Linked DNA regions of Homo sapiens. The protein of the gene in region 3 interacts with the protein of the main gene of each other region in a biochemical or structural test. Each region holds a gene or a part of one and is shown on either strand. Other genes may lie near its edges. The genes, in order: EVI5, GDI2 and RAB11A.

Evidence for each region.
Region 1: the proteins of RAB11A (region 3) and EVI5 form a complex in vitro, tested with the Homo sapiens proteins (one study listed by IntAct).
Region 2: the proteins of RAB11A (region 3) and GDI2 form a complex in vitro, tested with the Homo sapiens proteins (one study listed by BioGRID).

Annotation. Positions count from the first base shown.
Region 1 is NC_000001.11:92,774,956-92,778,609, forward strand, and holds part of EVI5 (ecotropic viral integration site 5 protein homolog), read right to left. Parts: intron 1-3,654. UniProt on the Homo sapiens protein: Functions as a regulator of cell cycle progression by stabilizing the FBXO5 protein and promoting cyclin-A accumulation during interphase. May play a role in cytokinesis.
Region 2 is NC_000010.11:5,782,429-5,786,082, forward strand, and holds part of GDI2 (rab GDP dissociation inhibitor beta), read right to left. Parts: intron 3,623-3,654; coding exon 3,424-3,622; intron 2,846-3,423; coding exon 2,714-2,845; intron 1-2,713. UniProt on the Homo sapiens protein: GDP-dissociation inhibitor preventing the GDP to GTP exchange of most Rab proteins. By keeping these small GTPases in their inactive GDP-bound form regulates intracellular membrane trafficking.
Region 3 is NC_000015.10:65,875,846-65,879,499, reverse strand, and holds part of RAB11A (ras-related protein Rab-11A), read right to left. Parts: intron 2,169-3,654; coding exon 1,973-2,168; intron 1,739-1,972; coding exon 1,545-1,738; intron 1-1,544. UniProt on the Homo sapiens protein: The small GTPases Rab are key regulators of intracellular membrane trafficking, from the formation of transport vesicles to their fusion with membranes.

The DNA.
Region 1 (3,654 bases), on a different chromosome or scaffold from region 3:
ACAACAATTAATCAATCTACATTCTTCCAATGAGGAAGGACTATCGTAACACCATGAGAGATAGTAAAAATTCCCCATGTCATCTGATTGATATCTTGAATTTTATATACAAACACAAAAGTAAAATACAGTCATGCACCGCATAAGAACATTTCAGTCAATGGATACCACATATAAGAGGGTAGTCCCTGCCTGAGCATAGTGGCTCACGCCTGTAATCCCAGCACTTTGGGAGACTGAGGCAGGTGGATCATTTGAGGTCAGGAGTTCAAGACCAACCTGGCCAACGTGGTGAAACTCCATCTCTAATAAAAATGTAGAAATTAGCCATGTGTAGTGGTGTGTGCCTATAATCCCAGCTACTGGGAGGCTCAGGCAGGAGAATAGTTTGAACCCAGGAGGCAGAAGTTGCAGTGAGCTGAGATAGCGCCACTGCACTCCAGCCTGCGAGACACAGCGAGACTGCATTTCAAAAAAAAAAAAAAAGAGGGTGGTCTCATGAGATTATAATATAGTACTTTTGGTGTATCTTTGCTGTTTAGATACACAAGTACCACTGTGTTACAACTGCCTACAGTATTCCATACAATAACATACTGTACAGGTTTGTAGCCTAGGAGCAAAAGGCTATACCATATAGCCTAGGTGTGTATAGTAGGCTCTATTATCTAGCTTTGTCTAAGTGTATTCTACGATGTTCATGCAACAGTGAAATTGTCTAACAACTCATTTCTCAGAACATATCCCCATTGTTAAGCAACACATGACTGACTGTTACTAACTTGTGGTAGAAAGAAAAGGCCAATGGGGATTTTGTGCAGTTGAGAAGCAGGCTTCTGTATTTTATAAAACTTGTTAAAAATTAATTTGAGGCCGGGCACGGTGGCTCACGCCTGTAATCCCAGCACTTTGGGAGGCCGAGGCAGGTGGATCACGAGGTCAGGAGATCAAGACCATCCTGGCTAACACGGTGAAACCCTGATTCTACTAAAAATATCAAAAATTAGCCAGGCGTGGTGGTGGGCGCCTGTAGTCCCAGCTACTTGGGAGGCTGAGGCAGGAGAATGGCGTGAACCCGGGAGGCGGAGGTTGCAGTGAGCCAAAATTGCGCCACTGCACTCCAGCCTGGGCGACAGAGCAAGACTCCATCTCAAAAAAAAAAAAAAAAAATTAATTTGAAGAGCAATATGTAGAGCTCGCAGGTTTTTATTTTTTGCCAAATATTAGAAGGAAAAAATCTATCTACTATCTAGAATCACAACTTCATAAGAAAAAGGGCATTTTAACACAGAAAAAGGATGGATATAATTTAAAGGTGAATAAATTGTATAAACATTGATAACATTTCTATTTCATCATGAACTTCATGGTAAAAATTCTAACTCAAAGAGCAACATTTGGGAAGCTACTGACTTAGTGTTTTAAAGAAAATAAAAATATAGAATGTCAAAGAATAACAAAGCTATTAGAGATATTTAAAATAGAGACTTTAATGGGTGGTTTTATCATTCACTTTATGTTAACTATACACTAAAATCTCCACAACTTTATTAATCTTTAGTAATAGCTCATAACTTTTTCTAGTCTAGAAGCTTTTTTCAAAATAAAAAATTCTGAGTACTACCTCTCCCCATGATTGGATTTAAGCATTACTAAATGAAATGATAACACCATCATGACTTTTTTTTTTTTTTTTGAGATGGAGTTTCACTCACTGTCACCCAAGCTGGAGTGCAGTGGTATGATCTCGACTCACTGCAGCCTCTGCCTCTCATGTTCAAGTGATTCTCCTGCCTCAGCCTACCAAGTAGCTGGGACTACAGGTGCACACCACCATAGCCAGCTAACTTTTTTTTTTTTTTTTTTGAGACAGAGTCTCGCTCGTCGCCCAGGCTGGAGTGCAGTGGCAAGATCTCAGCTCACTGCAAGCTCCGCCTCCCGGGTTCACGCCATTCTCCTGCCTCAGCCTCCCGAGTAGCTGGGACTACAGACGCCCGCCACCACGCCTGGCTAATTTTTTGTATTTTTAGTAGAGACGGGGTTTCACCATGTTAGCCAAGATGGTCTCAATCTCCTGACCTCGTGATCCACCCGCCTTGGCCTCCCAAAGTGCTGGGATTACAGGTGTGAACCACTGCACCCAGCCAATTTTTTGTATTTTTAGTAGAGATGGGGTTTCACTATGTTGGCCAGGCTGGTCTTAAACTCCTGACCTCAGGTGATCCAGCTGCCTCAGACTCCCAAAGTGCTGGGATTACAGGCGTGAGCCACCACCACGCCCGGCCCATTATGACTTTTTAATAAATTTTATTATATATTACAAATATGCAAGAACTATTATTCATGCAACATTTAATGTACACATGGATTTCCAGACCCCTTGCAGAGATCTACAGCCCAATCCATTTCTCCAGGCACTCATCTCCTCCTACCACAAGTTTCTCACATTTTAGGCTGGACAATTCCTTTAGAGAAGGTATCAAATAGCTCGTTAAACCGGATTATCTTCAAAATCACTTCCAATCTTGAGATTATAAGATCCTGGGACAACGAGTACTTCTAAAAAGAATTTTGAGACTCCTAAAGAAATGATATCTTGACCAATATTTAGGTCCTCTACCTCCTGACACTCTTTTCAGACAACTATGAAGAAATTTAAAAGGTATAACCCCATAAGGAGGAGACAACAATGGAGGACAGGTGGCAACAAGTTTCTGTATAATGGAAAGCAGACAGTGGACTTCCAAGGTGAGATGGCAGATTGAACACACACACATCTAATTTTGCTTCCTCCCAAAACGTTACTAAAACAAGGATAAAGAAAGTTGTGTTATTGTTGTTTGTTCTGTTTTTAGGACACAAGCCATTATGACAGGGAGAATGAGACAATAGCAACAAAATTTTGGAAGCTGGAAAGCAGCTGGATAACTGACCTAGTCAAAGATGCCAAAATCTTTTTTTTTTTTTTTTTGTGACGGAGTGTCACTCTGTCGCCAGGCTGGAGGTGCAGTGGCGCAATCTCAGCTCACTGCTACCTCCACCTCCTGGGTTCAAGCAATCCTCCTGCCTCAGCCTCCTGAGTAGCTGGGACTACAGGCGCACGCCACCACGCACAGCTAATTTTTGTATTTTTAGTAGAGACGGGGTTTCACCATGTTGGCCAGGATGGTCTCGATCTCTTGACCTCATGATCTGCCTGCCTCAGCCTCCCAAAGGGCTGGGATTACAGGGGTGAGCCACTGCACCCCGCCAAAGATGGCCAAATTCTAAGCCAGCAATGCTGACAACTAAGAACAAACCGGTTTATGCCATAGATTCCTCAAAAGGCTCAGGAACTGCCAGAACAAAGAGTGGAAGGGGGACTAAAAGAAAGGAGCAAGTGAATGCTGAACAGTTAGAATCCCAGATTTCTTCCAAGCTGCTGAGTGGCCCCACCCTCAATGTGGCAGGTGACAGATTTCTCTTCTCAAGAGGGTAAACCATACAAGGTGGAAGACATAGGCATCCTAACAGAGACAGATTGTGTGAGCCCAATATACTAAATGTTCTTTGGCTCCTTACCCAACCCTCTTTTCCTGAGTTCCCAGATACTGACAACCAGACCTCAACTCTCCAAGCAGAAAACTGGAAGATACTCTCTGGAAAATATGACTG
Region 2 (3,654 bases), on a different chromosome or scaffold from region 3:
ACTTCTATCTGCCACATTAGTCAGCAATTTCACTCCCAGTATTTACCCAAAAGGAAATGAAAACCTATATCCCCACAGAAAGTGTTTTACATAAAAATTTCACAGTGCCTTCATTCATAATAGCCAAAAACTGAAAACTAACTAGATGTCCACCAAAAGGAGAATTATATGCTCATATAATTCATACAAAGGAATTCTACTCAACAATTAAAAAAAAAGAATTGGCCAGGCACAATGGCTCACACCTGTAATCCCAGCACATTGGGAGGCCAAGGTGGGTGGATCACTTGAGGTCAGGAGTTCAAGACCAGACTGACCAACATGGTGAAACCCCATCACTACTAAATATAAAAAATTAGCCGGATGTGGTGGTGCATGCCTGTAATCCCAGCTCCTTGGGAGGCTGAGGCAGGAGAATCACTGGAACCCAGGGGGTGGAGGTTGCAGTGAGCTGAGACTGCACCACAGCACTCCAGCCTGGGCAACAAGAGTGGAACTCCATCTCCAAAAAAAAGAATTACTGACACATGCATCAATATGGATGAATCTCAAAAAATGAAAAAGACACAAATGAGAACATATTGTATTATTCCTTTTACATGAACTTTGAAAACAAGCAAAAGTAATCTATAGTGACAGAAATCACAGAGGTGGTTGCTGGGGATGGGGGGCAGTATTCATTATGAGGTGACACAAGGGAACTTTATGGGGTGAGGAAAATGTTCTATACCTTCACTCAGGTTTTAGTTAAACCCAGGACAGGGATAGGTCTATAAATTTATCAAACTGATTTTTTTTAAAATATATATAGTTATAAAATAAAAAATATAAGAATAGCTACTTCTGCTCGCTTCTGGTGTCCATTTACATGAAATATATTTTTCCACCCCTTTACCTTAAATTTGAGTCCTTTTGTGTCTGGTGAATCTCTTGAAGACAGCAGATACTTGGTTGATGAGTTCTTATCCATTCTGCTATTCTGTATCTTTAAAGTGGAGCATGTAGGCCATTTACATTCAACATTAGTATTGAGATTTGAGGTACTATTCTATTCATCGTGCTATTTGTTTGCCTGAACACCTTGTTTTTTTTCTTCATTGTGTTATTGTTTTATAGGTCCTGTGTGATTTATGCTTTAAGGAGATACAATTTTGGTATTTTGAGAATTTGTTTCAAGATTTGGAGCTCCTTTTAGCAGTTCTTGTAGTGCTGGCTTGGTAGTGGCAAATTCTCTCAGCACTTGTTTGTGTGAAAAAGACTACTTTCCTTCATTTATGAAGCTCTGTTTCACTGGATACAAAATTACTGGCTGATAACTTAAGGAGGCTCAAGATAGGATCCCAATCCCTTCTAGCTTTTAGAGTTTCTGCTGAGAAATCTGTTAATCTGATAGGTTTTCCTTTATAGGTTACCTGAGGCTTTTGACTCACAGCTCTTAAGATTCTTTCCTTCATCTTGACTTTAGTTAACCTGATGACTATGTGCCTAGGTGATGATCTTTTTGTGATGAATTTCCCAGGTGTTCTTTAAGCTTCTTGTATTTGGATGTCTAGATCTCTAGCAAGGCCGGGGAAGTTTTCCTCAATTAATCCCTCAAATTTGTTTTCCAAACTTTTAGATTCTTCTTCTTCCTTGGGAACACCAATTATTCTTAGGCTTGGTTGTTTAACAAACTTATTGGAGGCTGCGTTCATTTTTTTAAATTCTTTTTTGTCTTTGTCAGATTGGGCTAATTCAAAAGCCTTGTCTTCGAACTCTGAAATTTCTTTCTTCTACTTATTCAATTCTATTGCTGAGACTTTCCAGTGCATTTTGCATGTCTCTAAGTGTGTCCCTTGATTTTCAGAAGTTGTGATTATTTATTTATGCTATTTTCCTGGAAATTTTTCCATTCATATCCTGTATCACTTTTTTTGTTTTGCTAAGTTGGACTTCACCTTTCTCTCGTGCCTCCTTGATTGGCGTAATAATGACCTTGTGAATTCTTTTTCTGGCAATTCAGAGATTTTTGTCTTGGTTTAGATCCATTGCTGGTAAGCTAGTGTGACCTTTTCAGAGTGTCAAAGAACCCTGTTTTGTCATATTACCCCAGTTGTTTTTCCAGTTCCTTCTCATCTGGATAGACTATGTCAGAGGGAAGATCTGGAACTCAAGGGCTGCTGTTCAGATTCTTTTGTCCCACAGGGATGCTCCCTTGATGTGGTGCTCTCCCCTTTCCCCTAGGGATGGGGCTTCCTGAGAGCCAAACTGCAGTGATTGTTATTTCTCTTCTTGATCTAGCCGCCCAGTGGAGATAATCAGGCTCTAAGCTGGTACTGGAGAGTGTCTGCAAAGAGTCCTGTGATGTGATCTGTCTCCAGGTCTCTCAGGCGTGGATACCAGCACTTACTCTGGTGGAGGTAACAGGGGTGTGAAGTAGATTCTGTGAAGGTCCTTGGTTGTATTTTTGTTAAGTGCGCTGGTTTTGTATTGGCTGGCCTCCAGCCAGGAGTTGGCACTTACAAGAGCACATCAGCTACAGTTGTATAAAACTGGATTTTTTTTAACTGAAGATCCATGCATATCATTATATGTTAATTTTATTTCAATAAAAATAAAAAGCATCTTATTACTCATAGACTGATCTCATCTCATTATTTAAACTATATCTCATATACACATTATGTTGAAGATGAGGTTTTGGATCACTGAGGTTTTAAACACAGGCTCTTACCTTGCAAATCCTTGGGGCAGTTCTCCAAGGCCATAGAGTGGATAAAGGTATGGGCTTTTGCCATATCTTGCCAAAGATTCACTGTAAAGTTTAATTCTATTAATGGTTTCATAACACGGTTGATCTAAGTAACTGGAAGAAAGGAAATGAGTATTAGGAAAGGGCTTTAGTTTTCATTCATGGTGTTCAATTTATAATTTTTTTTGAAGCGATTTCAATCCGCTATCTTCTTTTTTGTTTTTTTGTTTTTTGAGACAGGGTCTCACTCTGTCGCCCAGACTGGAGTGCAGTGGTGCAATCTCGGCTCCCCACAACTTCCACCTCCCAGGCTCAAGTGATTCTTCTGCCTCAGCCTCCCAAGTGGCTGGAATTACAGGGACGCACCACTACCGCCCAACTAATTTTTGCATTTTTAGTAGAGAGGGGGTTTCACCATGTTGGCCAGGCTGGTCTTGAACTCCTGACCTCAAATGATCCACCCAACTTGGCCTCCCAAAGTGCTGGGATCACAGGCGTGAGCCACCACACCTGGCCCACTACCTTTATATTTAAATCACTTAAAAGGTCCCAACACTAATTTCAACTAGAACCTCTTCATTCATAGTGCAATATGGCTAAGTATTTGTTTTGTTAGAATTTCCACTTGGAAGACTTGGGAAATTTAGTGAGAATTTCAAGAAAAATACAAATCTAAAAACCAAAATACTTACTCATCAGTTCTGTAAAGTGCAAGAGCATGACCAGTAAAATCTATAACGTCTTGACCCAAATCAAATTTCTTATACACATCTCGCATTGTGGTCTTCTTAGGATCAATGCCTTCAAAAGTTCTTGGATCTTTTTCATCGAAGTTGGCAACATACACTAGGAATTTCCTGAAGCGACGTTTTTCAAACAATCCCATTAGGCCTAAATAAAAAAGAATTTTTCAAAAAGCACAC
Region 3 (3,654 bases):
TTACTTCTTTATATAAGTAGAGATGCAGGTCTCACTAGGTTGCCCAGCCTGGTCTTGAACTCCTGGCCTCAAGAGTTTCTCCTGCCTCCATCTCCCAAAATGCTGAGATTACAGGCATGAGCCACCATGCCCGACCCTACTTACACTTTAATATTTACACTTTAATAGATTAAAAATAATAGCAAGAGAGCTGGGCATGGTGGCTCACTCCTGTAATCCCAGGACTTTGGCAGGCCAAGGCAGGCGGATTGCTTGAGCCCAGGAGTTCAAGACCAGCCTGGGCAACATGGCAAAACACTGGAGAGAGGTTTTGCTCTCTCTATATAAAGAATACTAAAAATTAGCTGAGCGTGGTGACACACACCAGCAGTCTCAGCTACTTAGGAGGCTGAGGTGGAAGATCACTAGAGCCCAGGAGGTCGAGGCTGCAGTGAGCCTTGACTGTGCCACTCCACTCCAGAATGGGTCACAGAGTGAGATCCTGGCTCCCAAAAAAAAAAAAAAAAAAAGTGAGAAATTGTCAATTGGCTCCTTAATTAAAATAAATACTTGTTATATCTAAGTACTACTCACTAGTGACGAATGACACCACTTAAAATGTGGTAAAAATGTATCAAGTGCCCAGTTATTTCCATCTCTTGCTATCCTCTCCATCAACTACATTGGCTATAGTATTCCGTATGTTGTAGCCATATTATTTACAATAAAGCTATTCTTGCATGGGAAATTTAAAAAACTGTTACAGAAAGTTATTCATAGCATAAGCATTAGTGCAAAGGCAAGACTTTCTCTCTTTTTTTGTTTGTTTTGTTTTGTTTTTTTGGGACGGAGTCTCGCTCTTTCGCCCAGGCCGGACTGCAGTGGCGCTATCTCGGCTCACTGCAAGCTCTGCTCCCGGGTTCACGCCATTCTCCTGCCTCAGCCTCCCGAGTAGCTGGGACTACAGGCGCCCGCCACCGCGCCCGGTTTTTTGTATTTTTAGTAGAGACGGGGTTTCACCATGTTAGCCAAGATGGTCTCAATCTCCTGACCTCATGATCCACTCACCTCAGCCTCCCAAAGTGCTGGGATTACAGGCATGAGCCACCACGCCCGGCCGCAAGACTTTCACTAGCCACAATGCACAATGTTGTCTTCTGGCATGCTGTCCCTACCAGAACAGGGGCAAGAGACACGTGAATTCTTTATGAAGCCAAAAAGTTACAGCTCCTAAGCAGCTGCATCCCTGTTGGTCCCTGACACTCCCTGAGCCTCTGCCTTTCACTCACATAGAGCTCACGTACAGCAGCCTTTGTAAACACAGAAACATAACAGAAAAAGAGACAGAATATACAATGTTTATATTCATTTTTTGGCAGCAAAATATTAGTGTTTTAATGACTCAAAGCAAAAAAGCTATACAGTCATCACAAACTTTCAAAACAATTCTTGCTAAGCATTCATGTTTACCTCTCTGAAACTATTATAACCTATTACTCTCATTGGAAGGTATCAAAACCACAAGACACAATGGTAAGAAATATCATGGAATTCCTATCACTAACCTGCAAAAGCTCTTGCTTCATCTGTAGGAACTGCCCTGAGATGACGTAGATCACTCTTATTGCCCACAAGCATGATAACAATGTTACTATCAGCATGATCTCTCAGTTCTTTCAGCCATCGCTCTACATTTTCATATGTGAGATGTTTAGCAATGTCATAAACCAATAAGGCACCTACAGCTCCACGATAATATCTGAAAACAGAAACATATTTAGTATCAGAAAACCACAAGATGGAAGCAAACACCAGGAAGAACTCAAAATATGGATCATGAGTTTTAAAAACATACTTATAAATAAATTTCTAAGGATTCCTAATACTAGAATTCTTAAAAGAAAAAAACAACAGTTCTTTTTCCAATACCAAAAGTCAGCTAATTCACTCGATGGCAACCCATTTCACAGAACTTAAAAACCATGAGACTTACGCTGATGTTATAGCTCGATATCGCTCTTGCCCTGCTGTGTCCCATATCTGTGCCTTTATTGTTTTTCCATCAACCTGGATGCTTCTTGTTGCAAACTCTACTCCAATGGTGCTCTTGCTTTCCAGATTAAACTCATTTCGAGTAAATCGAGACAGGAGATTACTCTTTCCAACACCAGAATCTCCAATAAGGACAACTGGAAAGACAAAGAATTCAATGTCAGATGAATGAGGCAAACATATTCAGAACACCACTATGCTTTCAACAGAATGAAGTTTGGCTTCAGAGTAAATAAAGCAAGAAAAATAAGGTATATGACTTTTAAAAAGGAATGGGGGTAGGGGGTTGAACAGCATGTTCTTGACCAGTTACCAATCAATAAAACCGATTTATTCTTTTCAACCTGTTTCTACCTGCATGACTTCCACATATCATCTGCTTAGCACAGATACGGTACCCTGTCTTAAACATGCAGTTTTAATCACAGATGCCCTTGGCATTGATGACAGGCATTAATTACCGTCAATGCTATGCCAATCTTACTACTTTAGAAGATAACAACTTCAAAGATAAATCCTAAACTAAATGAATAATTTATGATATTAAAATGTAATGTATCAGAAATGAAAACAACAAAGGCTGTTAGTGGGTAGGGAAGGACAAAATGAATATACTTCGTTTCATCAAAGACTGGGTGTGACCTCAGGACTGAGACCTAGGCAAAATGAAAAACATTTAACATATGAGGCATAGGGTTTATAAACATCACCATACAGATCACAGAAACTAAAATGACCTTTAATAGTTGCATTTATCAGATTGGTTCAAAGTTAGAGACCCCTCTGCCAAAAAAACCCAAGCCACTACAGATAAACAGGGGGTATTAGGAAACTAATAATTCTGACATACTGTGAGTCAAAACCAAAGCAAGTGCCGGGTGTGGTGGCTCACACCTGTAATCCCAGCATTTTGGAAGGCCAAGGTGGGCGGATTGCTTGACGCCAAGAGTTCGAGACTAGCCTGGCCAACATGGTGAAAACCCCATCTCTATAAAAATACAAAAATTAGCCAGGTGTGGTGGTGGGCGCATGTAATCCCAACTACTTGTGGGCCTGAGGCATGAGAATAGCTTGAACCCGGGAAGCAGAGGTTGCAGTGGGCCGAGATTGTGTCACTGCACTCCAGCCTGGGCGACACACTGAGACTCTGTCTTAAAAAAATAAATAAAATAAAATACAACAAAGCAAGGAGGGCATATACTTTCACTTATGACTCCATGATTTTTTTGAAAATAGGTCTTGATTAGATGAATTTGCTTCCTGTGATTTCTATAGGCAGCAGTTTATTTACTAACTAGATACATGGAGATTCTTTTTCACTCAAAGTGGTATTACGCTTAAGAATTTCAAAAACAATGGAGAAACAGGCAGTTAAGTTGTTTTAAAACATTTTCTATCTGAATTTAAAGTTCAAAATGAGTTCACACGTTTATAGAATCTGAGCTAGATATTTTTTCCTTTGTAAAAATTGGTATCAGCATTTCAGGAAACATTACATTCGTTCCTACTTTTGACTACTAAGACTTCTTCTTATCTAAACTAGCTAATTGATTTAGACATCAGGACTAGAAAATCAAACATACAAAAATAAGGCCAAGGAGTAAGACCATTCCTTACTAAAGA